Linked DNA regions of Homo sapiens. The protein of the gene in region 1 interacts with the protein of each later gene in a pairwise test. Each region holds a gene or a part of one and is shown in the gene's direction. Other genes may lie near its edges.

Evidence for each region.
Region 2: the proteins of CHIC2 (region 1) and AGXT interact in binary tests that used the Homo sapiens proteins (3 or more experiments, as listed by UniProt).
Region 3: the proteins of CHIC2 (region 1) and CEP44 interact in binary tests that used the Homo sapiens proteins (3 or more experiments, as listed by UniProt).
Region 4: the proteins of CHIC2 (region 1) and CBY2 interact in binary tests that used the Homo sapiens proteins (3 or more experiments, as listed by UniProt).

The regions. Positions count from the first base shown.
Region 1 is NC_000004.12:54,054,606-54,061,632, reverse strand, and holds part of CHIC2 (cysteine-rich hydrophobic domain-containing protein 2), read left to right. Parts: intron 1-7,027.
Region 2 is NC_000002.12:240,864,251-240,871,836, forward strand, and holds the start of AGXT (alanine--glyoxylate aminotransferase), read left to right. Parts: upstream 1-4,573; 5' UTR 4,574-4,615; coding exon 4,616-4,780; intron 4,781-4,919; coding exon 4,920-5,112; intron 5,113-6,393; coding exon 6,394-6,458; intron 6,459-7,098; coding exon 7,099-7,199; intron 7,200-7,586. UniProt on the Homo sapiens protein: Peroxisomal aminotransferase that catalyzes the transamination of glyoxylate to glycine and contributes to the glyoxylate detoxification.
Region 3 is NC_000004.12:174,279,805-174,286,912, forward strand, and holds the start of CEP44 (centrosomal protein of 44 kDa), read left to right. Parts: upstream 1-4,106; 5' UTR 4,107-4,139; exon of another isoform or gene 4,140-4,336; intron 4,337-7,108. UniProt on the Homo sapiens protein: Centriole-enriched microtubule-binding protein involved in centriole biogenesis. In collaboration with CEP295 and POC1B, is required for the centriole-to-centrosome conversion by ensuring the formation of bona fide centriole wall.
Region 4 is NC_000013.11:45,705,316-45,712,342, forward strand, and holds part of CBY2 (protein chibby homolog 2), read left to right. Parts: intron 1-7,027.

The DNA.
Region 1 (7,027 bases):
AACTGTTGAGCACATTCAATTTTTCTTGCTTTAAATATAAATGGGAAGAGCTATTAGAACAGTTGTAGTAAGACTGGCTAAATTTAACACCCCCTCCTCCACCTTTTTTTTTTATTAGGTGCTGATCAGAGCAGTCTTCCCTTACCAATTTGAAAGTAATTGACCATGTAAACTGAATCATCTGTAGTCTAGATCAGTCTAGAAGGATATAGATCAATCCATATGTTTTTCACAGATGTAACTTTTGAGTAGCCCTTTACAATTGACTATTTCTGCTCTTTTTTTCTACTTTAATATATTACAGTATTACTGTTTATTTTAGAAACTGGTATTCTCACGTGACGTGATTGGCATGTCATTGTGGTGATGTGAGAAAGAAAGTTACCTTCCATTCTCTAGGTTAGTCTCTAGGCATAATCAGATTTTTGTGACATAGGATGCAACATGTTTAATTTGCCTAAAGTCTGCTTTAAAGTGGCTTTTAATGCAAATATTTTCCTTTTTTTAAATACAAATGTTTTCATCGTGACCCCCAAATCAGACTTACTTTTTATACTTCTCTCATGATCAGTATTCTTTTCTGACATTCTTCTGTTTAAGTATAATATTTCCCTTCATTGTTAGATTTCTAGGTAGCAATATGGGGAAATCTTGTGCAGAAGCATATTTTGAGGAAAGTGGTATTGGAAGGAAGGAAAATAAATGATAAATTCCTGTTATTGCATAGTATTTAGGTACATGTAACCTAAAAGGCTTACAGTCACCATTCAATTAAAAGTAGATTTCCTTTTTGCTTTCATGGTGACTTCTCATATAATTGACGATGAGGAAAAATAGTTTCTAAAATAAACAGTAATACTGTAAAAAGACTATTAGGTAGTCTTGACCAGATTGGTTAATATTTTAAAATTATGGAGTTCCTTATGCTTCAAAATATATTTGCAAAATATGTTGATCATTTATTGAAGAGTTTCGTTTTTCACAGTGGTAACTCTAAAGGATGTGTCAGTCTAAAAGTTAGAATTTAAAAGTAGTTTTAGGCCAATATTTCCTAGGTAATCTGTCATTATAACAGACATTATTTGCTCCCATCTCCACTTTCTACCCTTCTTGTATCAGAATCAAACTTGGGGCTTTCCTAGAGTATGTATAATCTTTGACTTCTAACTCAAGCCCTATCATAGAGCCAAGTTATTTTGCTGAGGTTTGTTTCTAATGTTATTCTCTTGTAATTTTACCGTGTCTTCATGTACTCTCTTCTGAGGTGTAATCTTACCATCTCCACAAATAATTCCTTATCCTTCAACACCAGTTTTTATCAATGGCTGTCGGAAACCACTTTTTGCTTGTTTTCATTCCAGATATGTTATGGAAGATTAAAGATTTAGAAATGTGACTTGAAAATGTTTGGGAACTACACTGGGATGGAATATGACTTTTGAATAAGAGACATCACAAGAACACCTTAGTGTTTATTGATCTTTCAAATGGTAGAGTTAGTAAAAAATTGTCTTGAAATGTGTCAGTATTTCAGGACTGCTGCTAGATGCTGTGGTTAGCAGTAAGAGACCTGAATGTGAGTTGCCAAATTACAGAATCATGTCAATAAAACAATTTTGTTAAACTTTATAATTCCTACTTCTTTCTCCCACCCAGCATAATATTTAAGACACATTCTATTTATTTCTAAAGATTAAGCTTTCTGTTTTGAAATTTTTGAAGGCTTCATTGATGTATCTCCACAGGCTATAAGTTCTTGAGGGCAGAGGTTGTGTCTATTGATCTTTCTTTACTATTTAATATAGTGTCCAGAATATTATAGTTCCTATAATATTTTCTAAATGAATGAAGTAATTGTATACATCTTTGGATTTTGTCAGAATTGCCAAATGAATCACTGTTTTCTTCTCTGCACCTCCGAACAAAGGCAAACAATGTTCTATAATAGAATACTTATCACACTGAAAAGATAAATAGCTCCTCTGTTTTAAAAAATGAAATCTGGTAATTGTGAGGAAATTATCAAATTAAGGTAGATTTTTTTTTTATAACTTTTTTTTTTTTCTCCAGAGATTTTTGTTTTCTTTTTTTAGAGACAGAATCTTTCCCTGTCACCTAAGCTGGTGGGCAGGGGCCTGATCACAGCCTACTGTGGCCTTGACCTCCTGGCTCTAGTGATCCTCCTTTCTCAGTCTCTGAAGTAGCTAGAACTACAGGTACACGCTGCTATGCCTAGCTAATTTTTTAAAAAAATTAGTTTTTTGGTTTTTGTAGAGATGGGGCTTCACTGTATTGCCAGGCTGGTTTTGAACTCCTGGCTTCAAGTGTTCCTCCTGCCTCAGCCCCCACAAATGCTGGGATTGTATGTATAAACCACCATGCGTGGCTTCCCAGAGATTTTTCTTATTCCATATAGTTTGAGAGGAAATTAATTTGATTATAATTTGGTAATTTGATATAATACATATCTTTGGTAATGTGAAGAAAAAATTCTATGCATTTTATTTGGACCAACTACTAAAACTTCTTAATGCACAGATTTTCTTGAAGAAATGAGAAATATGATAATTAACTGAGGTTTCAAAGTTTTTACTGTATTTGAATTTGAGAATTTATATGACATTTGGTCCAAAGAGTTCAGTGTTGGATTTTTGCCTACCAAGGGATATGAAATTGATTAGTACTTAAAATTTTATATGACTAGCTAAGTGGAAAAGAGGGATTAAATGGTGAAAAGTAAATTATATGTAATTATTATGATACTAATCAAATACTATTCTAAATAATTTAAATAAATAATATTACTCTAAAGCAGAATTCCAGCTGGAGTTTATACTGTCAACAGGTTAAAGGCCCAGGATATTAGGCCAGCTGTATACTCAGAAAGAAATCTTTCAAATCTCTAATAGCTGTGTCTGGCTTAGGTTTCTAATCTGCTATAAAGCTATTTAGATTTTATTAATAAAATTAAGCTTTAAATATAACATGTAGCAACAGATGCTCTTAAGTATCCTTCAGGTATCTTCTGTGTAAGATTGTGTGTGTGTGTGTGTGTGTGTGTGTGTGTGTGTGTATGTGTGTGTATGTGTGTATGTGACTTTTGACCCAATCAGAATATTGGGTCTGGAAGGGAAGAGTCTAGGGATTTTTATTTTTGGTAGGAGTGTTATGTGATTCTATCAGACATATTTGGAAAGTAATAGATGGTACTGTGGAAAAAGTGTGGTCTTTGATATGAGGCAGATTGGTTTCAATTCTCAGTCACTTCCTGACAGTAACCATAAGCAGATTAACCTTTCCGAACTTCAGTTTTTTCATCTGCGAAAGAGATAATATCCACCTTAGAGGTTACGTGTGAGAGTCAGAATTTATCTAATTAATAGGCATTCAATAAATTATTACTTATGACATATTTTGATGTTTAACCCTGCATGCACATTTTTTTGGTTATTCTTTACCATTTTGTGGGAAGTCAGTCTAAAATGTGAAGTATGCTTTTCTGCTTTAAAACAAGATTCTGAGCATAGCTCAGAATTATCTAATTGACTAGAGGAATCATTTAATCAAAAGCGGCTATCAGATTGATACACAGTGATGCCTTAGTGGCCCTGAGGTATGTTGGAGTTTGAGAACCTTCTCTAAATGGCACTTTCATTTAAATTTCATATGTGGGCTGTTCTTTTTGGTTTGCTTTCTTCTGTCTTTGTAATTGGTCAGCTGTTCTTGGAAGCAAAACAACCAACCAGCCTTATTAGAACTGCATATAAAGTAAGAGAAGTTCATCCTGATTGTTGAATGTAGATGCTTGGGTTTTGATGCTTGGGTTTTACAATATTTATTTTGTTTTCTCAGAGTATTTTTTGCTTAATCTTTGATTATCAGCTGTCTTGTTGAGGTTTCCTGATAAGTAATTTAATGAGTATTTGTTAAATGCCCATTTTTCTGCCAGGTATTGCACAAAGCTCTGGGTATATAATGAAACCCAAAATGAAACACACATAGTTTCTGCCCTCATGGAGTTTACAGCTAATAGACAAATTTTATCTGATAAAGTTGCACTGAAGGAAATGGATGAGATCCTGTGATTGAAAATAATGTGATTAGGAAGAACCTCTCTGAGGAAGCTAACATTTAGGAAGGATGAGAGTCCTGTCAGGAGCCCCTGGATCTGGAGAACAGCAGGTGCCAAGACTCCAAGCCAAAACAAGCTTGACTTGCCTGAGGAACTGAAAGGATACCTCTATATTATGGCTAGAATATAGTGAACAAAGGGGATAATGTCTTGAAATGAGGTTGGAGGGTTCAGTAGGGGCCAGAAAGGATTGTAAAGGAATTAGAATGAAATTTAGAAGGTTATAGAAGCAGCTTCCATAAGACATGATAGTGGCCCCAGCTAGGGTGTTGATCTCTAGATTAAAGGAGTTATTACAGTTCTGTGTGTAAACCATCAAATTTCACAGCTTTTCCTATGAGGTATGGAAATACATAGCAGTGGCCACTTTTGCTGTCTAATTCCTCAGTTCTTATGTTTGTTTTGGTCTGTTTATTTTTTAATTTTAGCTTTGTGTAGGCTGAGGTTAAATAACTGGCTACCCTTACTGTTCACTGGGAGTGATTTTGATGGCATACCTGCACTTTCTGTTCTGCTGCTGGGGCAGCTAGTATGCCAAGAGAATAGCACATGCCAGAAGTAGAGAGTGTTTCCCACAAGATCATAGATTTTGAAGTGGGAACCCTCGTAAATGTGATATCCTTTAGCTGTAAGGTGTGTAGTATGTGACAGCCCTCAGTACATGATTCATTAGATTTGAGGAAAAAAATTGTGTTTTTTATATCTTACATTTAAAACTCAGTTGCATCCGTAGGAGCTGAAATGTTCTCACAGTGTCCCTGAAGAATAATTTTTTTGTTCTTAAGCTTTTTTTCTCTCCCACTATCTACTTAGGATAGAGTTGGTTGGACTTGAAGGTAACCTAACTTTGTTATTTTGATTGATAAAAAAAGTGAATGTACTATATATAGTGAGCTTCCTGCAAGAACTTCTTGTTTTATTCTCTTTGATCTTGCATTGTAGTCATAATGTGGGCCTTGGTTAGTTCAGTGGTGGAGTTCCTATGTACCCAGTCTCCTTTCTTGGTCTTTTCTAAACTGCTCAATTATAAATGTTACTTGAAATGAGTATTTTTGTTAGTCTATATTGTAAATCAATTCAACCATATATTTTGCTTAAATGAACATAATTTAGCATCATTATTTTGCTCTTAAGATTTATAGAAGTATGAAGAATATTCTAAAATATGTATAAATCAGATATACAAAAATCTTTTTTCTGTAGTTCAGAAAATTTAAAAGTTGTTAAGTTAGATCAGCTGCATCCCTATATCGCCAGAAGTTAGTTATACTGTGCATTTTCATCAGTATACACTTATATAGCTTTCACTGCTTAACAACATATTTAATCTGTTAATAATGGAAATTATAACCTTAATAATTAAAAATTGATAAAATGCTAATGCTAGATTATTATAAGACTATGTATAATGGTGAGGTTTATGATAGAGTAAATTTAACACATGCTTTGGAGAATTAAGTCTTTGATTTCACTAGTTTCCTGAATGAGATTAAACTTTCATAAAACCAGATGAACTCAAATATTGTTCAGAATGTGGTTACAGAGTTAAGATTTTTAGAATTATTCTGAAACCCAAATATACGTCTCCAACTCCAGGGTCTCTGTATCTTTTGTATAAATAGAGTATACTTTCAATTAGATCCCATCCTCCTTGAGCTACATTGATATTCAGACGTATGTTGAATCAACCAGATAAACTTAAAGCATGATTTATATGCATCAAAGCCTGTTAATTTTTTTCCATAGTTATGACTTTATCTCCAAAACTAGCTAAAAATTTGAGTTCATTGAGCTCAAAGTTCAACATTAGGAAATAAGCACTCTCTTCATGTGCCATCTGCATAACCAATATGTTCAGTTTGAAATTTCTAGTTCATATGCTCATAGGTCTTGTCATATCTGTAGGAACATAAAAATTCTCTGTATCTATAGATTTGTACAGGTGGAATGTCTCAGAATCCAGAATATCCAAAATGGAATTCATAATCTACACCCCAAATCAGCTTCAACGGCAGCCTTCCATTCTCAGTTGATGGCAGATCGAGGACCCTGTTTGTTTAGATCAAAAACTTTTTGATGTATTCTTGATTTTCCTCTTTCTCTTTCACTACATCCATTCTGTCTTGACATCTTGGCTCTGTCTTCAAAATTTGGCCCTATTTTGCCACCTACACGACTGGAGTGAATTGCCAGTCTCCCTTCTGCCTTACGCTTAATGTATTTCTTAAGTCAGTTATGGTGGCATGTACCTATAATCCCAGCTACACGGGAGGCTGAGGCAGAAAGATCACTTGAGCCCAGGAGTTTGAGACTACACTGGGCAACATAGCAAGAATCCATCTAAATTACAAAAAATATATATATATTTTTTTCTTCCCCCTGTCTCCACCTTTCCACCTTTGCCTCTCCTCTTATACAACCATTTTGGTACATCTGCTATAGTGATCCTTTTAAAACATAAGTCAGTTCAAGTCTTTTCTCTGTATCAGGCCCCTCAAAGGTTCCCCATCTCCTTCAGAGTCCTTTTAATGTTCTACCAGACCCTCCCTGATCTGGCCCATCATTACTTGTCTGGTGATCTCAGTTTCTGCTTACTATTGGCTTCAGTTTATTTTGATTTCTAATTATCGATGGCTTTACTACATCTTGACTTCAATTTAAGCCCTCTCTCTGTCAGCTCTGCATGTTACCATCTATTTGTCTTATGTTCAGATACCTCAAGAGAGAGCTGATTGAGTTAGTTAATGTTATCTAAGTTAGGCAGGACTGTTTGGCCTTGCCATTCCATGTGCTGCTACCCAGCCCAGGGATTAGCTGTTCTTAAAGCAGATGCCCACTTGTGATCTAATTAGCCAAAGTATAGGGAGTTCCTAGTTAGGCATGCGGAGTAACAGA
Region 2 (7,586 bases), on another chromosome or scaffold:
TGTTAAGATCTAGAGTAATTCCCAAAGGTTTCAACCCACCTTAGCCCTTTTGAAATTATTTATGGATGCCCCTTTTTACAAACGGACTTATTACTTGATCCAGAGGCTCATTATCTGTCTCAATGTGATGCCTCCCTGGGCAAACTATCCAGGCCACTACTGAATACCAGGATAAATTTTGTCCAAAATCTGACCCCTCCTCATCAGAACTAAGACCTCCTGTTAACCTGGGGACTGGGTATATTTAAAAACTTTGCCTCCAGACAGAAAACCCCTTCCAGCCCTCTGGACTGGACCCTTTCAAGTCCTCATAGCCTCTCCCACAGCTGTTAACTGCAGGGATTCTCCCCTTGGGTCCACCTTTGCCACATAAAGTCTGTACTGCCGCCAGAACTCCAGCCTGCTTACACTTTGAGCCCTTGGAAGATCTATGATTTTTGTTTTGCAAACAACCAGGTGACACTAACCTCTCTTCAAAAGCAAAGGATACCACGTAAGCCTTTTGCTGTGTTTATCATTCACTTTCCTTTCCCTCCCTTGTCATTCATTTCCTTATGTACTCTAGAAGCGTTTTTAGGTCCTCCAATTTTCTGAGATTATCCTCAATTCACTTACTTTTTTTTTTTTTTTTTTTTTGAGACAGAGTTTTGCTCTTGTCACCCAGGCTATAGTGCAATGGTGCGATCTCGGCTCACTGCAACCGCCATCTCCCGGGTTCAAGTGATTCTCCCGCCTCAACCTCCTGAGTAGCTGGGATTACAGGCATGCACCACCATGCCCGGCTATTTTTTTTTTTTTTTTTTTTTTTTTGTATTTTTAGTAGAGACAGGGTTTCACCATGTTGGCCAGGCTGTTCTCACACTTCTGACCTCAGGTGATCCGCCCGTCTCAGCCTCCCAAAGTGCTGGAATTACAGGCATGAGCCACCACACCCAGCCAATTTACTGTCTCTTTATCCAATCCCCATTTCTCAAGACCCACATACAATTATTCAGCTTGCACTAGATTTTTATTTGCAGGGTGGTTTTTCTAATTATACTTGGAGCAACTTTTGTAACAGTCCTTGAATTAGAACAATGAGACTCCTTTTTTCTTTCTTTCATGTTTTTCTCTTTATCTCTCATATAAAAACTTCCCAATCCTCTTGGTTTGACAATATCATCTTCAGCATCTCACATGCTATTGTGAGAGGAGAAAATACTCTGTGTGGCTGGCTTTGCCGTCCACAACCTGCTACTCCAAGCCATGTAGATTCTTCTTCGTAAGCACACCCTGTCTCCAATCAAACTGTACTGTTGGGATTTCATTATTCTTCTCACCACTCCTTCCCACCCCGACCATTTCCTTCTGTGCTGGTAAATTGGAAACCACCTCCCTCTTCGTGCTATCATATTACTTCCCCCACCATCCACACTTACAATATCACTGAAACTTCCTTAACTTGTAATGTTATTTTGGGAGGTACACCTTGTTATAATGACACTCATGCAGCTAACTTTGACTCATTTGAGGCCTTCGCCTCCTACAATCAAAACTCTGACTCTGGCCAGGTGCGCTGGCTCACACCTGTAATCCTAACACTTTGGGAGGTAGAGGTGGGTGGATCACCTGAGGTCAGGAGTTCGAGACCAGTCTGACCAACATGGTGAAACCCTGTCTCTACTAAAAATACAAAAATTAGCAGGGCGTGGTGGCAGGTGCCTGTAATCCCAGCTACTCAGGAGGCTGAGGCAGGAGAATCGCTTGAACCCAGGAGCAGAGGTTGCAGTGAGCCAAGGTCACACCACTTCACTCCAGCCTGGGCAACTGAGTGAGACTCCATCTCAAAAAAAAAAAAAAAAAAAATCTGACTCTATCTCATCACTGCCAATTTATAAGCCGTTAAACTGGACCAGTATAGTGGGGCTCCCAGTATACAGCACCCCTGCACTCCTAATACCTTCATGTATGTTACTATAATGATGCAACCAGTGCAGGAAATAACCACCGTGCCACCTGGTTTACATCCTATGCCATGCACTGGCACCCGCCTGCTTTTAAACCTCCTCCATCAGTACATAAACATAGTCTTTCCCCCATATGAGTCCTCTTAAAACTGTCAAAAGGCCCATTTCCTTTTTTCCCAACATTTTAATTAAAATAATCATCCTGCCCCTCCTGGGCTCTTATGGCTTAGCAGCCCCACTAAAAACTATTTAAACCCTTTTCAAGCTTTGGCCCTATCCCACCTTGATCATTCTCTTCACTATGGTGATTGTAGCCTGGGAACAATAGCTCCCACCCAAATCACTGTCTTAAACATCACTTCTAATTCAGAATTCCCTTCTAGAAGGAAAAGGGCCCTGGGACTTACTGTGGCCGGAGTTGTGGGAACTATCACAACTCTTACCCCTTGGGGAGGTTTTACTTACCAGGAAATCACAAGTAAGAGAACCTACCGCCTCCCTTGAAATAGCAAAAGCTGGCACCCATCTATCAGCTCTACAAGTCATTAGACTCACAAGCAGGATTTTGGTGTCTGGTAACAGGTGAGTTCTGGATTACCTCCTAGCTGAACAAGGAGGGGTCTGTGCTGTCATCAACAGGACCCGTTGCACCTACATTTATGTGTCTGGAGAAGTGGAAACCGATGCCCAAGAAATCATCAAACAAGCCAAATGGCTACACACACTTTCCCAAAGCAACCAAGACTGGGCCAAAACTTTTACTGATTGGTTTTCAAAAAATCACTTGGCTTCCCCCATTCCTTAGACCTTTATCTTCTGTCATTTTTCTTTTAATATTTGGTCCCTGCCTTTTTAATGCTCTGATTGCTTTTCTATGTTCTACATGAGAACAATTCCACCTGCAGAAGGCTATGCATTCCCAACACTGGCCTGCAACTGCAGCTCGATTTACATGGGGCTTCTTGATGGAAATACCGGCCTGCAACTGCAGCTCCCATTTACGTGGGGCTTCTTGATGGAATCCCATCACGTGCCTCCGTGCACAAGTTTTCATGACCCTTTATTCCCTTCATGACCGAGAGCAAGAAAGGGAAAAACGTGACCTACCCCCCTGAACTCCCTTTCAGCAGCAAGTAGTCAGGCGCACTGGACACCCCTCTTCACTGTGCCGTTTCCCCTTTCTTGAGACCCCAACAGGAAGCAGGTGGACATGAGCATGGCAGAAAAGGAAGGGTCAAAGATTTCACCAAGATATTTGTCAGAGGGAAAATGAGGACAGCAAAGATCACCTGGAGACCATCAAGCAGGCCCCAGGTGGGGTGGGTGGAGGGGAGCCTCTTTATTTGAGAAATGTAGAATGAATTAGACTTCCCTATTATCTAAAGTTGGCACCTGGTTCCAGGCCTCTTTTCAACCTAAAACTTATACATAACTAGAATTTCTATACATCTCTGGAATGCAGCATGCTGAAACTCACTGTGCAACCCCTGCCTTGTGTGTGTCTGTATACCATGCAGGTTTGCTTGCTAAATTGAGCCTGTAAACCAAAAAGTACCTCAAACAGGTCTCAATTAATTTAGAAAGTTTTTGTTGCCAAGGCTAAGGATGCACCCGTGGTACAGCCTCAGGAGGGAGGACATCCTTGCCAAGCTCAAGGGTGCACCCCTGACCACAAGGGCCCAAGGTGGTCGGGGCACAGCTTGCTTTTATACATTTTAGGGAGATATGAGGCATCAATCAATACATGGGAGATTTACATTGGTTCCATCTGGAAGGGCGGGACAACTTGAATTGGGGGGCTTCCAGGTCATAGGTAGATTTAAACATATTTTGATTGGCAACTGACTGAAGAATTATTATCAGCAGAAAGGAGTGTCTGGGTTATGAAATAGGGGTTGCAGGGAGCAGATGATGCCTTCAGGTAGCGGGATTTAGAGAGAAAATAGATGGTAAATGCTTCCTATCAGACTTAAGGTCTATGTCGATGTTAATGCTGGGGGTTATGATGTGGCATGGCCTGAACGTCTTCCGGGTTAAAGTTTAGAGCACCCTGGCGGACAGGGAACCCCATTCAGATGGTTGCTGGGGGGCCTTCGAATTTTATTTTTGGTTTACAAGCCTTCCCATCAGCTGCGCCAGGGTCAGCAAACCACAGTCCATGGGCCCAATCTGGCCTGCCACCTGCTTTTTGTAAATAAAGTTTTATAGGAACACGCCCACACCTCTGGCAGCTGCTTTGCAAGCACGCAGCAGGGTTGAGTTGTTGCAACATAGACCACAGGGCCTGCCAAGCCTCAATTATCTGTGCTCCGACCCTTTAAGAAACACTTCTCTCACCCCTGAGCTAAGCAGAATAAGAGGGGCTGGACGTGCAGGACTCAGAGTGGGAGCGAGGAGGGCTGGGGTGAGGACAGCTTTGTCACACTCTGTTTTTCTGTCACTCAGCCCTGGGGGCTCCCTCTGCCTGAGGGCTTCGTCCCCTGCTGCCTGGCCGTGACCCGCAGCACAAGCACAGATAAGCCTCAGGGAACAAAAGGCAGGGCTGCCACGGAAGCCCATCCACCAATCCTCACCTCTCACCTCTGTGTCCGCCCTGCTGGGAAATATTCCAGGCTTTGGCCAAGGCCAGTGCAGCCCCAGGTTCCCGAGCGGCAGGTTGGGTGCGGACCATGGCCTCTCACAAGCTGCTGGTGACCCCCCCCAAGGCCCTGCTCAAGCCCCTCTCCATCCCCAACCAGCTCCTGCTGGGGCCTGGTCCTTCCAACCTGCCTCCTCGCATCATGGCAGCCGGGGGGCTGCAGATGATCGGGTCCATGAGCAAGGATATGTACCAGGTAGGAGTGGGGGTCACTCGGGGGGCCTGGGTCTCACCCATGTTCCCACCCACAGATCGTGGACGAGGGAAGGGGGTCACTGCCTCCTCACTTGGGGAGGCGGGGAGCCTGGGTCTCACCCTATACCACCCGCATGCAGATCATGGACGAGATCAAGGAAGGCATCCAGTACGTGTTCCAGACCAGGAACCCACTCACACTGGTCATCTCTGGCTCGGGACACTGTGCCCTGGAGGCCGCCCTGGTCAATGTGCTGGAGCCTGGGGACTCCTTCCTGGTTGGGGCCAATGGCATTTGGGGGCAGCGAGCCGTGGACATCGGGGAGCGCATAGGTAAGGGAGAGGCCCAGGTGGGGATGGCCCTGGATCCATCCTTCAAGGCCTCCCTGGCCTCCCTCTGTTTGAAGCTGGCAGCCCCCGTTCCTGGGTGAGCGCTTACCCACCTTGTGGCCCTGTGCGCACGAACCTCCTGCCAGCCCACTGCCTCCTCCAGGCGGTGTCGGGCACTCATGAGGCCTGACTCTGATAGGGCTGGGAGCAGCACAGGTGCCCCGATCCCCCCAGTCTCCTTGAGCTGTTTCTGGAGCATGTGCAGGACGGAACTACAGGGAAGCCTCTGGTCCCAGCACACACTCCTGAGAGCCCCGGCCGCTGTCCAGGGCCCCAGGCACCAGCTCTGCTTTGTGACAGGGTGGGGTTTCAGAAGCTGAAGCCTCCCCTCAAATCTCAGCAGCCTTCCTTCTGGAATCTTGATGTGATACACAAAATATGGAGGTATGGGCAGAGTATTCGCCTCCGGAGTACACTTTTCTGGGAGAGACACAGGAGCAGGAGTGTGCCCTGGGTTTAATGATTGATTGTGGCATTGAGGGACATCAGCTTGGTGAGCTCCACAATGGCCATGCTGGTTAATACGCGACCGCAACAGCCAAGAGGGTCCCAACCCCAAGTCCACAAACTTTTCAAGGGGACCCAGGGTCGGCAGAGGCCAGGACCCCAAGTGGACATCAGGGCACGCAGGCTCAGATGCCTGTGGTATATGGCTTCCCTTTTCCCCATTCTGTCCCCTTGGCCGCAGGTTCTTCCCCTCCCACAACCTGGCCCTGAACAGCACACAGGATAGGGCAGAGACAGGGAGGGGGTGAGGGCCTGATTCCTGGAGTCCCCAGCTCCAACAGAGGTCAAGGCTGCTGCCTCACTCACCCCTCATCCTTCAGTCTGTCATCCATCACACCTGTGGTGTGCCAGCCCTGGACCAGGTACACTCTTTGTGCCAGCCCTGGGCCAGGTGCAGCCCTGACTCCCGGGAGCTCACTCTCTGCTTGGGGAGGCACTGGTCAGTGTGGCCTGAGAAAGGGCATTTGAGCTGAGCTCTGTCAAGAGTGCCCCAGGAGCGTTGGCTCCAACAGCAGGGGGGTCAAGATGGCCCTGGCTCTACACACAGAGAGGCTCTCATTGGGCAGAGTCCACCCTCCTCTTCAGGCAGGCAGCCAGGGTGCCACGGTGGGTGGGGTCCAGCCCTCACAGGGCCCTGCTCAGCAGGGCCACGGGTGCCCAACACTGGCTTCTACAGTGTGTGCGGGACACTCACGGCCCACTCTGTCCTGCACCCAGGAGCCCGAGTGCACCCGATGACCAAGGACCCTGGAGGCCACTACACACTGCAGGAGGTGGAGGAGGTAGGGGACCCGGGGTGGGGGTCAGGGCCGGGAGGAGGTGGGAGTGGGCATGCTGGCTCAGGGGCTGCCTGGAATTGGCCAGCCAGCAGGGTGGGATCATGGCCGGGAGGCTGGTGGCTGACCCTCAGCCCATCCTAGCATCTGGTGAGCGGCCACAGGGGAGGGTTCCATTACCTGGGAATGGTGGGAAGACTGGTAAGGAGGCTTCTGTCTGGCAGGGAAACTGAGTCAGGAGCCTGGTCCTGTAGGCAGGGCCAGAGAGGCTGGAGGCAGGAGGCCGAGTTGGAGTCTAGGCTGCAGAACATGTCCCTGACACTCAGGATACCCCACCCTGTGGGCTGAAGTCAACCTCAGCCTACCCGGAGTGTGGGGACTCAGTCCATCTAGCAACAGCCCTCACAGGCCAGGCAACAGGCTGGGGGCACCCTCCTCCATCTCTGCACCAAAGTCCTGTTCTTGGAAAAGCCCTTGTCCCGGAGCGGAGATGCCCCAGCCTCCTCCTCCCATGCACACCATCAGGGAGGAGTAGAGGCAGGCCCAGCCCCTGCTACCTGGAGCTGTGCCACCCATGGGGGGTTTGTGGGGGTGTTCTGGCCCCTGCCCCTCTGAGCTCCACCCACAGCCGTCCCTGCTTCCTCAGGGCCTGGCCCAGCACAAGCCAGTGCTGCTGTTCTTAACCCACGGGGAGTCGTCCACCGGCGTGCTGCAGCCCCTTGATGGCTTCGGGGAACTCTGCCACAGGTGAGCCTGGCCCCAGGGCGGTGGACTGGAGCACAGCTCAGAGCCAGGCTATGGGGAGGGGTGGGCACTGGTCCCTCTGGTCCTTCTGCCCCTGGTCCCCACCCCAGCCTCTGTCACATGGTATGGGGTGCAGGCACCTCCCAGGTCCTCTTTGCTCTGGGCTGAGTCTAAAGACAACCCCAGGTCCCAGGGCAGGCTCAGGTGCTCCCTGGCCGAGCGCCCCCATAGTGCCCACTGACCTCTGTCCCCAGGGCTGAAGAGGGCTTGGTGCAGACTTCCATATCTTGCCAGGGCCTGTCCCCACCTCACCCCGAGATTGCCAGGACACTAAAGCTGCCTGATGCCCTCCACTTCCCTCCTCCAGCCTCCCTCATCCCCGCATGGGGG
Region 3 (7,108 bases), about 120 Mb from region 1:
TGAGGTTGGAACCTTACCCAACATTATCTATGAAAATTAACTCAAAATGGATCAAAGACTTAAATCTAAGACATAAAACTGTAATACTCTTAGACGAAAAAACAGGGCAACAGGGCAAAAGGCTTACAGCACTGAATTTGGCAATGATTTCCAAATGCACAAGCAACAAAAGAGGAAACAGACCAACTGAACATTATGAAAATTAAAAAAAAATTGTGCATCAAAAGACAGTATCAACAGAGTAAAAAGGCAACCCACCGAATGAGAGAAAATATTTGAAAATCATGTATCTGATAAAATCTAATATCTATAATTTACAGATAACTCCTTTAACTCAACAATAACAAAAACATGATTCAAAAATGGGTAAAGGACTTGAAAAGACATTTTTCCAGAGAAAATACACTAACGTCCAATAAGCACAGGAAAATACAGTCAACATCACTAATCATTAGGGAAATACAAATCAAAAGTACAATGAGGGACCACCTTATACCCATTAAGATAGTTACTATCGAAAAAAAAATAAGTCTTGGCAAGGATGTGGAGAAACTGGAACCCTTATGTATTGTTAATGTGAATGTAATACGTATGGTACAGCCTCTGCGGAAACAATATGGAGCTTCCTAAAAAAAAATTAAAAACAGAATTACCATGTGATCTAGCAATTCCACTTTCAGGTATATACCCTCAAGAATTCAAAGCAGGGTCTGGAAAAGATATTTGTTCACCCATGTTCATAGCAGCATTATTCACAACAGCTAAAACATGGAAGCAACCCAGGTGTCCAATAACAGATGAATGGATAAGCAAAATGTGGCTGACACATATAAGGGAATGTTATGTGACCTTAAAAAGAAGAGAAATTCTGGCATATGCTACAACAAAGATGAACCTTGAGGACATTATGCCAAGTTAAATAAGCCAGTCAAAAAAAGTCAAATACTGGATAAGCCCATTTATATGAGGTTTTGGTTCTTTACCACTTTCCAGTAATATGAATACAAACACTTCCGGTTTCCAAAACTGGAAACAAAAGGTAGAATGGTGATTGCTAGGACCTAGGAATGGGGAAGGGGAATTATTGTTTAATAGGTATAGAGTTTCAGTTTTACAAGATAAAAAGAGTAATGAAGATAGATGGTGTTGATGGTGGCACAACATTATCAATGTAATTAATACCATTGAACTGTACACTTAGAATGGTTAAGATGGTAAATTTTATGTTACGTATATTTTACTACAATTTAAAAATTGGAAGAAACAATTCTGTGATCCCATAAAAATAAAATGAGGGAAAAAACTCTGAAAAACAAATTAATAAATAAAAGAAGAGATGATGGCGTGCGTGTGTGTGTATTTAACATCTGTCCTTTCCATCTCTTTTTTCCCTATATTCATGACTTCCACAAATCACTACTCCATATAGAGTCTCTCCAAGCTTGGCTTACTTGCTAAAATCTGGTTCCTTCATTCAAATAGCTTATGAATCCTATGCAATCTATTCTTGAAAAATACACGAACTGCTGACTAAATGGTTAAACTCCCTAAAGCTGTTGCCTAAACTCCAAACCACAAATATTTTTATCTTATATTGCTATAAAGTACTTGCACCAGCACAGTGGCTCACACCTATGATTCCTGAACCTTGGGAGGCTGTGGAAGGAGGATCGCTTGAGCTCAGGACTTCAAGACCAGCCTGGGCAGCACAGTCAGACAAAAAAATTAAAAGAAATAACCACACGTGATGGCGTGTGCCTGTGGTCCCAGGTACTCTGAAGGCTGAGGTGGGAGGGAGAATTGCTTGAACCTAGGAGGTCAAGGCTACAGTGAGTCTTGTTCGCACCACTGCACTCCAGCCTGGGCAACAGAATAAAAATCTGTCTCAAAAAAATACTTGCCCCAAATATGATATAAATTTATTCAAGTCAGCCAAAAATGTTTTAGTTTATTAGAGAGCTAAGTCAAGAAATTTGTCAGAAAAACAAAACAATGAGAGCAAAACGAAAAAGAAATAGTGAACATAAATTTCCAGAAATAGATGTATTTCATTTAAATTGTTTAAAAAATTATTTAAGTAAAATAATTCAAGAAAAAGAAACAGAAATTAAATGCATAATTCTTAGACTTTAGTATTAATGATTTTGATGCATTATCATGGGTCAGTCAATGGAATAGTGCCAGTTTCCAAATCTGAATCAAAATGAGGAAAAAATTAGTTGTACATTAGCAGTTGGTTAAATAATAAACCATAAAGTTACAAATCTGAATGACTAATTTCAACACACTGTGATTAAAGATTTGGTAATTCAATGTTTTTATATTGTAAAATGAGGAAGATATCTTTTAACCTAGCAACAGTAAACACACAAAACATTCCCCATTAAAGTGACCATATGTAATAAATTATGATCAATGTTTTGGCTTATCTAGAAGTTACTATAATATTTTGTGGATGGAAGTAATTGATCCAAGGGCCCCAAGTAATATTAGTTAATTTGCTGTAACTTATTATTAAATGAAGTTACGCTGCACCCTAATTCCTGATGTACAGAAACTGATAATATTTGTTGTTTTAAGCTGGGGTAAATTTGGGGGTAATTTGTTACCCAGCAATAGACAACTAATGAAGTACCTCATCAGACATATTGTCAGGTTAATTGGCTAAAGATGAATTTCTGACCCAATATGAAAAAAATAATAAAACTTATGCATTCTTTATTCTGAAACCTACTCTGTTTCACATATCATTTTCGTGAAGGGTAGAGTTGAGAAGTGTGTAGAGCTCCTACCTCAGAAATACATTACTTCAAACATTAAAAGAAGGAAGAGGAAAGCTGAAATAGAAAACATAAATTGTCTTCACTTTACCGTAATAAAAATCATGATATATTCATTTGTGGATATACACCTAGGAGCCTTGAAAATGAATATTTTACTTGTAAAACAAGTAGAATCAATTATTTTATTAGTAAATTCATACAGAACCTAAAAATAAAACTAAAAAAATTAAATGACTGAGGATTGGGATCCATTTATGTGATTTTGCCAAATAAATATTGAGAACCTTCTACGTAAGAGATTAGAACCCAGTCGCTGAGAAACAAATAAAAGACAAGTTTGACAAGTTTTATAACCCAAGTTTGACTACTGTAGCAGCTAGCAATCCATCGTGATCTTAACTATACTTGTGTTTGCATTCATATTACTGGAAAGTGGTAAAGAACCAAAAACTGTCTAGGAACCAAAATAACACTCGACCCGAAAACCAACACTTGGACCTGAAGAAAGTAACCCTTGTCATTTCTCAGGTTTATTTCACAATGACGCTGGGTTACTACTTGGAGTCCTAAACCGAACTACACCCCAATGGCCTAGAAACAGAAGGAACACACCCAGTTCCGCCTCCTGACAGTGATTCCTCACTTTAATGAGCCACCACTACTGTCACTCAAGATGCTTCGCACTGTCATTGGTCGCAAACTCTTGCTGGTCGGCCAGTTTCGGCCAACTGGCAAGCACTGGTTGTCTTTATTTTCGAGAAAAGTGAAGGTGAACAGGGAAAAGAGACAAGAGATCTAAAATATCTAGGTTGACTCCTGTACCTGAGCGACCTGCGATCTCCACCGCCGCCGCGACGAATTGGCCTCTGGGCGGGGACTTTTAGCCAAAAGGAAAATGGCTCAGCCGGGAACTGGTGCCCAGGCCATGGAGAAGCTGATTCAAACTTTACTTGTCCACACCGGTAGAGGTGACCGCGATGAGAATACCAGAAACAGCACTACGACCCTCAGAACTCAGGGTACCTCCAGCTGCAGGGGCCAGAACTGCCGACTATCCCAATTTTGACGTTTCCTATTGTTGCCGGAAGTGACGTTAGGCTCCGACTCTTAACGGAGACGCATTTTTATTTCTGTTGTTTACGATTCGCTATAGATTCCTTGTTTCTCACTTCGTAGCACGAGCCACTCTGACCATCAAGATCAGAAAAACTTCTCAGCTGCAAGTTAGAAGTGGACTGGCCATTGAGGAGGCTCTCAGCGGAGTCGCTCTTCACAGGAGTCTTGAACGCGGTGTGGAATCGGCAGCGAGGAATCCTGGAGCACAGAGAAGCTCCCAGCTTTGAAGGTCTTGCGGTGGTGCGTGGCGGGCAGGAACCCACAATTCCAAATACAAACGGTCGGCGCGAGAAGCGCTTCTGGGCGCAGGCGCCTGGCTGTAGCGACTGGTTGCGGGAGGCTGGACTCTGGTGACTGTGTATGGTTGCATATGCTCCGTTTTCCTCTCCCTGTCGTGCTGGGCCTTTGAAACCGGCTTCTTTGCTGGTGGCTGCTTGGTGAGCCCCGAGGAGACGGCAAGGCTGCGCCTGGTATTGGGCGGAGGTCGCCTCTCTCCGCCGTCCTTACAGAGACCCCGGGCGGAGACGAATGACCAGATCCGCCTTTTCATTCTTTTAAATCAAATGGCGGGAGGGGAGCCTTGCTTATATACCCAACTAGTATATGCTTTTAGTCACAACGAAGTGGGAAGTATCGTGGTAGCTCATCCTATCAGAATTAGGTTGTGACTTAGGGTTGGAAAGTTATAGGCTTACTGATTCCTATTGGATCCTCTGGGGTGAGGATACAAACGGCTCCTGACTATAAGGAAGACAGGACAGCAGTTCGTGTTTTCCTTGTTGGCATTTCCCCAGCTTTTCAAATATTTCTCCACCTTTATTGAAGGCTACAGATTTTTCCCTCACTGTAACAAGTTAATCTTGAAGTTGTTATTCTCTTTTACTCTGGAATTATGGCCATGCTAGACTGTTTTTTTCCCGAATTATCTGCAGACCTTTTAATTTTATGTGTGAACACAGCAGTCCCGTTGAACTCTTTACTTGTCCCTTACTCCTCCCCACTCCCGCCCAGCTTTCTCGATGCTTTGCCTTTCTCAGACCTTTCTCCTATCTCTTAGAGAAGTATTTCCCTAATATCTTTTGCAGTTTCATAAACTGTTTTTCTCATCTTTACTTTTTTGTTTTTGATACGTGTTTTTAGATAATATCGAGCATTATGTGCTATGTCACAAACTCTTAGCCATTGACTGTTATTAGAGTCAGTGTAGTTGCTTCATTCTAAACAAAAATCACTCTGGTCCAGTGACATTCTATTGGGAGGCATTGTTTTAATGACCTCTAACAGCAATGAGATTGAGCGATGTTGAAAATCCTAAACTGCTAGAGTACACTATTTTCACAACCTCTCCCACAAGTTCAATTGCGCAGATCTGACTTGTAGACAAGGAAGGAAGCTAGAAAGGAATATTGAGAGCTTCTTTATTATTGAATCTATGCTGCAAGCTGAGTGGTATCTCCTTTTTTCCTTAGTTTGCCTTTGATCAGTGCTATAAGTTGAAAATGTTAAATTTTTAAAAGTATTTTTCATTAATGAAAGTAAGGTGTTAAAATGTACATAAGTAATAGATTGGCTTCTTTTAATGTCTTGTTTTTAAGGCTTTTGAATTTTATAGTAGACTTAGTAAAGCCCTTTGTGAGAATGTAGAGCAGTAGCTGTAATTTTATTCTGTGATAATCCCAATTTTAAATCCCTTTATTTTTCTGTCTCCTATCACTTACCTCGTTCACGAGCTCTGCTTGTATTACTCTTCAAAATATTTATTCACTGGTACTGAAGAGAGACATAACTTTGTTGTCAGAAATTCCATTATCAGAGGTAGAAATCATGTAAGAGACACTGAAATGTTTTCCAAAATGTCAGAAAAAGGAAAGGTGAGAAGATATCATAAAGTGTTACGTAAAACAGAATTACTTGCACTGGGAAAATGGAATATACATCTGGAAGGACTAAAGGAAGTCTGGAAAGACATAGAATTTACATTAAAGTTACTGGGAAGAAGGTATCCCTAGAAGAATTGTGTTACGATAGATGGGTCTGGAACCCGAAAGAAGCTCAGACCTACTATATTGGCCAGTGGCAAAATCCAAGAATACATTTTTTGCGGTTAAAGCCAGAGTAGTCCTCACTTCATGTTTTTCAGGAAAGTAAAGGCTTATCTTGGGAAATCCCTTTTAGGCTTCCGTGTGTCCATCTACCCCCAGTCAGTCTAAAGGATATTAAATAGGGTTTACCTTCTTGGCCAGTGTTTTGTATAATGTGATTTCAGGATGACTTTCTCTTTTTCTAGTTATCTCCCATTTGACAGTACCTAAAATTATCTCTGTCTAGAAATGTAAATGTTTAGTTGAAGTAATTTATTGGCTGAAAAATAGTGACTAAAATGTGCATGCACAAGTCTATAAAGTATATTCAATAAGCTGTTGCCTACCATGTTGATAAAGGAGACTAGGAACAGAAAGGTAGGTTCATAAAGAGGGAGCAGTTGCTCTACCCTGGGGAAATGGCTGTGGAAATGAGTGGCGAGGGGCTTAAAGTAGGAAGCTTACTAAATTTAGGATTTTGTAAATCGGTGACCTTCTTACCTTTCCTTATTTAAAGATAGAGAAACGGTGTGTAAAGGGATGATTTGTATCCTGGACAGCTGGGTAATGCGAATTGGAGGAAAAGATCACACTAACCCAGCTTCACCTGATTTATGAATTGTTCTGTTTTCATTTTAATATAATGACTTCATTTTAATGTGATAACTTCATTTTAAAGGAGCTTCATTCTCAAAGGGTTCATTACTCAAGGTATTGTTATGTATTACTTTTCTTCTATGAAGTGTCCATGGACAGTTGTGGTAGATGTTTTTATGTAAGTTATTGAGTTTCACGTTACTGGCTGACTAGACTTTTATAGTTCAGAAACTTACCTCCTTCCAGCAAAGGTTCTTAATCGTTTATATACCTATTTATGACTCTTCTTTGGGAAAAATCTCCTTTGATAATCTAATGAAAGTCCCACTCCATGCAAGAAAATTAGTCATTTAGAAATAAATTCCATGCTATTACTTTTGGGGCAGTTTTTAAAAAATGAATCATTTTGTTTAAAGTCTCAGTTCGTTCAAATCTTTTGGTTCACGTATGTGTTTTTCTGTTGTGTACATTCTTCAGAGTCATATTCCTGTTTCATAGGCCCCATGTATGTCAGCTTTTAGTAGGTATCAC
Region 4 (7,027 bases), on another chromosome or scaffold:
TGTGAATTTCATTAAGGCATTGTTTACTCCTAGATCATTAATGAAAGAGCTACACCAGGTCAGACTGAGCTCCAATAGCACCCTCCGGTGCCTCCTTCATCCTTCCCAGTTGCCTTTTCTCCTTCCCCTTTGTTTGTGCTTGTTACTCAGAAGCAGTGAATTCCTGCTGACAGCACCCGCCAATTTGAATTCCCAGGAAGATTTCAGGAGAGTCTCTGTTAAACAGTATGCAAACATACTACATATGACATCTTCTTTATCCTCTTTGCTGTTAACGTTGTAATTCTGTCAACATCAATCACATTTACCTTGTGAATTATCCTTTTACCTGTTAGTATTTATTAAAACCACCATTGACTTTGCCATGGTACCAGGGAGCTGAATTAATTTAAAATAATGATAATGAGACTCAGCCTTGTCATCTCATATGAAAATCAGTATCATATTTGGCTTTTCCTTCCAGAATCCTGGGTCCTCTCAACTTCACATGCTTTAATAGTACCTCAGATGGCTGAATGTTCTCTGATAGTAACCCTCAGTAATGTTGGCAAAGTTGGTGTTTAAGAAACTTGGTCAGCAGGCTTGGACTCTATCAGCAGTGTTTGGACATCTCTTCTGGGCTGTGGTAGCCACATTTTTCCAGGGGTGGAGAGACATCAGTGTGTGTCAGCTAAGCCTGGCTAGTTGCTGTTCAATCCCATCCCCAAACTCTTTGGATGGGAAACCACACCCCCAGTAATTCTATCCCAGAAGGTCCCACCCAGAGAGACCTGTTGCTACAAGTCCTGTAGCACTAGTAAGAGATTTTGGTCCTTTCACTTCCCCTTTTCCTTTTGCCCTTTGGCCTTTGCATTTTGCCTCCCTTCTTTCAATTGTCCCCTTCCCCCATGTTCTTCACTTGCCACCAGGTTGGTGATCTGACAAAGACACAGTTGTTGGCAGATTTCAGGCATTTTCCTTCCAGGACCACTTATATTTACCAAGGAGGGCACCAGACCTAATGCTAAGGAAGAATTCCAATCCACAGATGGGACTTCAGGCTTCTGTGAGGGCGATGTTCGTGCCCATGGCCCTTCCTGGATCCCTGTCACTAATGCATCATTGGGTTACAGCTATGAGCACATTTCCCCTGAGGACAGAGTCTCTTGGCACCTTTCTAGCACCCGACAGGAAGGCATGATGAGCCCATGACCAACTTATTCCCCTTCTGCATCAGCTTCATATCTCATTCCTCCATGAAGAAGCCAACCTTTTTCTTTCCTACCTACTGGATCTCTATGTGAGGGCATTTCCTAGAGACCAGAAAAGAGACAATCTTTTATTTTCATGGTCAGTTGCACCATGCTACACAGGCTGTACCTCCCAGGCTTAGGAGAACATTACTGGGGTGTTCTTGGGGCTTTGTATTGGCATAGACCTCTTGTCAAGGGCTAAAGGATATCAGGGCAGGTTAGCTTGGCCCATGAAACCAATCCAGTGATACCACTGGTCGAGGAGTCCTACTGAGAAGGAACTGGCTTCTAACATAGGCCAAGGAGGTCTGGAATCCTGGAACTGCATATGTTCGCTGAGCTCAGATGCTTAGTTTTTGGGTAGCCCTTTTGTAAAGAAATATACTCCACGTTGCATAGCGCTTTAGGCTGGGTATGTTTAAACCTTACCAGTAGAACTGACCATCTGTTTAGTCTTTATGACAGCTTGGCTACCACTTTCTTGTCCTCTGGCAACCCCAGGAAGTAGGCAGAGCAGCCATGTTTAGGCTTATTTTAGAGGTGACATTCTGAGAGGCAAAATGACTTTCTCAAGAGCAGTCAAAGGAAGGACTTTTGAGCCCAAAGTTACTGGAAATTTAGGGCGTTTACCCTCGTTGGATTATATATTCAAGATGATGAAAGGGACCACTAGCGTGCTTGTGTGCAGGGGGTGGTGGGAGCTTCCTCTAAGGGAGTACATGGATGAACCTAGGGGTTTGTGGAATTCACGTGAGGAAAACTCCATGCTTATAGATTTTACATCATACCATAACAGCTTTGCCCTGGGACTATTTTAAAGTCTTAAAATATGAATGGAAATGAGGATATAGCTTATCAAATACACTAACTATATTAAGGCAAAAGAAATGGCCATTTTTGTAGGCCAAAAATGGTAAAATGTTAACAGTTTCTTATGGTTCAACCTAGTATTTCCTCCCAATCTTTCAGTGTATTTTGGTTGATTCAGTTATTGCCAAGGACTCATTAAGCCTCCACCACATGTGAAATTTGCTTTCTAATTCCCAAGACTTGGGATGTCACAAAAACAAGGGATAGGTCACTGTGCTTAGATAATTGCAACTTACTCATATGGGGAGAGGACAGGCCTGGTTGTAAGAGAACCATTGCAAAGTAATGATATTAGCACATGCAAAATAAAATGTCTGAGCATTGTGAAGTGCTAGAATAAACATGGAGTTTGGAGTCAAATATCCTCATTTTAAACCCTGGTTCCACTCCTTTATCAGCTATGTAATCTTATGCAGAATCATGCCAGTTCTTTGGGTAAGATATTACATATGAATACAGAAATCAATTAGCATATAACCTGACACATTATAGTCACTCAGTGTTATTTTTTTTCTTGTTCTATATAATCTTTCTCTAAAGAAATGCTAAGCAATGTCTCTTCTAAAAGCCCTTCTTGTATGTCTGCAGCTCTTTATAAACAAAGAAAATGTTCCGAGTCTCCTTTTATTTCTGAACAACAAACCCTCTGAGAGAAGTAGGGCAGATGTTGGTGAGGTCGTTATAGAGGGTTGTACAGGTTGTGCCCTGCAGTAACAGTGAATAGCGCCTTTTAGAGTTGGGCATTTCAAAAATATATGGGTTGGCCCTGATTCATTCATGTCAACATCCACATTTTCTAGGAACTAAGGCACAGAAATGAAGTGACTTTGTAAAGGTCATGCACTCATATAGTGCAGAGCCAGAATTCTCTGGAGATGTTATCATTTCTAGTCCCCTATTCCCCACACCTTGCTGCCTGCGTTAATGCTTCCTGCATTTTGACTTCTCTCATTTGCATCAAGAAGTAATTGGTGCTATTCACTGATTCTTCAAATCAACTGGAAATTCCCTGAGGGCAGGGTCTGTGAGCTTGGAACACAGTACGTGCCAAATTAATGTTAGTTGATTCACTGACACTAATGTAGGGGAAAAATTGGTGCAATAACATCCTGAGTGGGTACATGACTAGGGTGAAGAATTTTCACAAGGCCAAGAGCTTTCCTTTAAGGATTAAATCCAGCTAGCTCTGATCAGAATCAGAGAAATGCTACAGGAAAAAACAAGTTTGTTCTGGATCAATGTTTTCCTGAAGTTCAATCATGATCCTTGTCATGTCTAAAAATGCCTGTATATTTAATATAGGTATGTTTTCCCATTACTCATTAAAATAAGTATATGACTACTGAAAAATTTTTAAATGTTCTAAGAAATTAAGCCATGAGGAAACACTGCACTTGACCACTTTCTTGGTCCTGTCTGAGGATAGGAGGAAAGATAATAGGACTCAGTCATTGGAGAAGAATTTGGTTTCCTGTTGAGAAAGTAAAGGGGACTTATTTGTCCATCAGCATTTCCTGGATTAGGTGCTGTGGGCATGGAACAAGAGAAGGCACAAAGCCTGCTTGGGAAGAGTTGGCCATTTAGGGGAGAGGACGAGATGCCAACTAGGTTGGTAAAAGAGGGCTGCTGGGGCCATAGTGGTGCCAATTTACAAATGCAAATCCACTGGACCAGAGACAGTTAGGCCAAGAGAGCACTTAGAGATAATGACTCTTACCCTTCATTTTACAGAAGTGGAAACTAAGGTCAGAAAGTGAGTGGATATGAGCAAGATCACCTGAATGTGTGAATAAAGACCAGGGCACAAACACCCAGGTTGTCCGTGGCTAGGGATCCACCATATGTTAAGGTTTTGTTTAGTGTATTTCTGTTGAGGGGATGACAGAATGTTCCTTGGGTACCCAGTGTGGAAGGTGGATGTAGAACACAGGCAGCTGAATGCCATGGGTTAAAAGCCATCATGGCCAAATATGGACAGGTAGAAAGCATCCATGATTCCTCTTTGGACCCTTAGTTGGATCAAGAAGATTGTCTCTCTGGCTGAAACAAAACGATCGTTAAAAAGAAATGAGAATTGGGGAAATTTGAACATGGGCTCAGTATTCGCAGATATTGAGGGATAATTGTTAAATGTTAAAGGGTGATAATGGTATTGTGATTCTGTTAAAGAGGCACATATTTATATATTTGTGGATAAGATGACACAATGTCACTTTGCTTTAAGATAACCTAGCGGTAGGGGAGTGGTTGTGGAATCAGGTTGAGGCCTGGTGAAACAAGTGTGGCCTTGATTTGATACTTGGTGAAGCTGAGTGATGGGTACATGGACATTTATTAGACTATTCTCTCTCTTTTTGTGTATGTTTGAAATTTTCCATCATATAAATTGAAGGAAAAGATATCATGTTCCCCAAAGTACTGCAGGACTTTTGATAAATCCATGGTGGTTTCCCATGTGTGTACTTCACACATAGAAGGTCAGGGAGCCAGAAGTGGGTTTGTGTCTTAGTGAAGGAGCTAGTGCTGGTTATTTAACATCTCTGAGTTTCAGTTTCTCCATCTGTAAAATAAGAATAGTAATAATATCTTACATGTCAGTGTGGTGAGGATAAAATGAATTTAGTAGGTAGAATGCTCAGCTCACGGCCTAGCATGAAATTGAGGCTTAATATTTGTTTCCTTCTTCCATTTTCTTCTCAGGACTGGGATGCACATGTTGACTAAAACCACATTTTTCCATGTTGATAGCTTCTGGAGTCAAATCCTGCTGAGATAAAGTATTAGTTCTAGTGCAAGGATGGAGAGAACCTCTTAAGATTCACTCCTGCCAGGCACGGTGGCTCATGCCTATAATCCTAGCACTTTGGGAGGCAGAGGCAGGCAGATCACAAGGTCAAGAGATCGAGACCATCCTGGCCAACATGATGAAACCCCGTCTCTACTAAAATACAAAAAATTAGCCAGGCGTGGTGGCACGCGCCTGTAGTCCCAGCTACTCTGGAGGCTGAGGCAGGAGAATTGCTTGAACCCGGAAGGCGGAGGTTGCAGTGAGCCGAAATCGTACCACTGCACTCCAGCCTGGGCGACAGAGTGAGACTCCGTCTCAAAACAACAACAACAACAACAACAAAAACCACCACCACAACAAAACATTCACGTCTTTGGCTTTGACCAGTCTTCCCAGAAATCCTGGATCTCAGGACCTTAAACCTATCAGAAAATGGTCTAGGTTATCCACAGTGAGGTTCATTCTGATCACAGACAGCTACAGGAGCCAATCTGCTTTCCCAGTTGAGAAATGTGAAAACCAGGGAGGCTGAACTTTTTTAAACTAAATAAAATTCCGCTTGCAGAATGCCCTCATACCCTTGCTATCTGGAAGATTGAGCGTATCCTTACAAAGTTAATGACATGTGCTTATTGCAAAGTTAATGGCATAGAACTGCATCTTCTATTTATCTAGCTCTTTAAGTTTTAAAGAATTCTAACCAACTTTATATACCATGCAAATTGTGTTTCTCTCTCTACATACACCCACACATATATATATAATGTAGTTAGCCTGACTTGTTTTTTATTTTCTCTATCTGTACGGTTGTGAAAGTAACCTAAGACATAAGGAATTGATATCTGGAGAGCATTTTGATATACTTGGATGAAGTACTTTTGGTGTATTTGGAAGTAGCTATCATGATCTGTTTACTTAAATTCATGGCTGCAATCATCACCTCTTCTCTAGTGTGCATTCTACTTGCTCACTTCTTTTTGAATACATCTTATAATTCTTGCATTAGTGAAATCTACTCTTCTTGATAATAATACCTTATGGTTCTTTGGCACTGTTGGTTTTAAAAATATTTTTGCATTCATTATCTCATTTAATCCTCACAACAGTGTTGTGAACTAAGCAGGGCACATATTATTTCTATTTTACAGGTATATTTCATTGACTTTTCAATGTTGGAAGGTGCCTTTAAGATCATGGAGCCCGACTCCCTCTTTTTCACTCGTGAAAAGTCTGGGTCTCAAAGAGGATAAGAGAGCTGTCTGGTTTCAAAGTGCCCATCAGTGACAAAATCAGGATGAGAATTCTTGTGACCTTTCAGTCTGTAATGCTGGTGCAACCCTCACTTAAGCAAATTGCCTATTCTACTTGACTTAGATCTGTCCTAACCACCTGCAGCCAGGAACACCTGAAGGAGCTGGTTAGAAATGCAGATTCCTGGGCCACACCCCAGTCTGAGTAAATCAGACTCACAATGGGAGGCTCAGAAATCTGCATTTAAAACTCACTGGAGTTATTTTTCTGTACTGGGATGTGTGAAAGCTACCAGCTCATTGGAGTTAAGCTCTGTGGATCTGAGCCCCGTTTTATGCTGTGGTCTTGAGGTCTATGGCCACCATCATGAATTCCTCAGGGTCCTTGACTGGCTTTATCACCACATGTTGAACGCTCATTGCTCAGTGATATGTCTGGGATGGGTTTTCTTTCTTTCCAAAATTATTAGTTAGACTCTGCTTTGAGTCTAGCATTGCATTAGAAGCTGGGGTGAATGTTTAAGGGGCTGCTAGCAGAAAAGACTCAAGGGTGGCTAAGAGTGAAGGATATGCCCAGATGGGCAAGAGAGAAGGCTGGGCTGACCAACGGCACCGCCATTTTGGACACAGCAATTTGGGTGGCTGTTTGGATGATTCATGCTGCTTCTCTGCTCATGCTAAGTGTGAGTACACATCTGTGGGTGGTGGCCCTTGAGAACAGTGTTTGTTCCTCCTTTAGGGTGACAGAATGTGCCAGAGCCCATGCTTAGTGCTTTTGTACATTGCCTTTTTTAATCCTAAAAATGTCTCTATGAGGCAAGGAGTAAATGCAATTATCCCAATTTGAAAATGTGGAAATTAAAGCTCAAATAACTTGCTCAAATTCT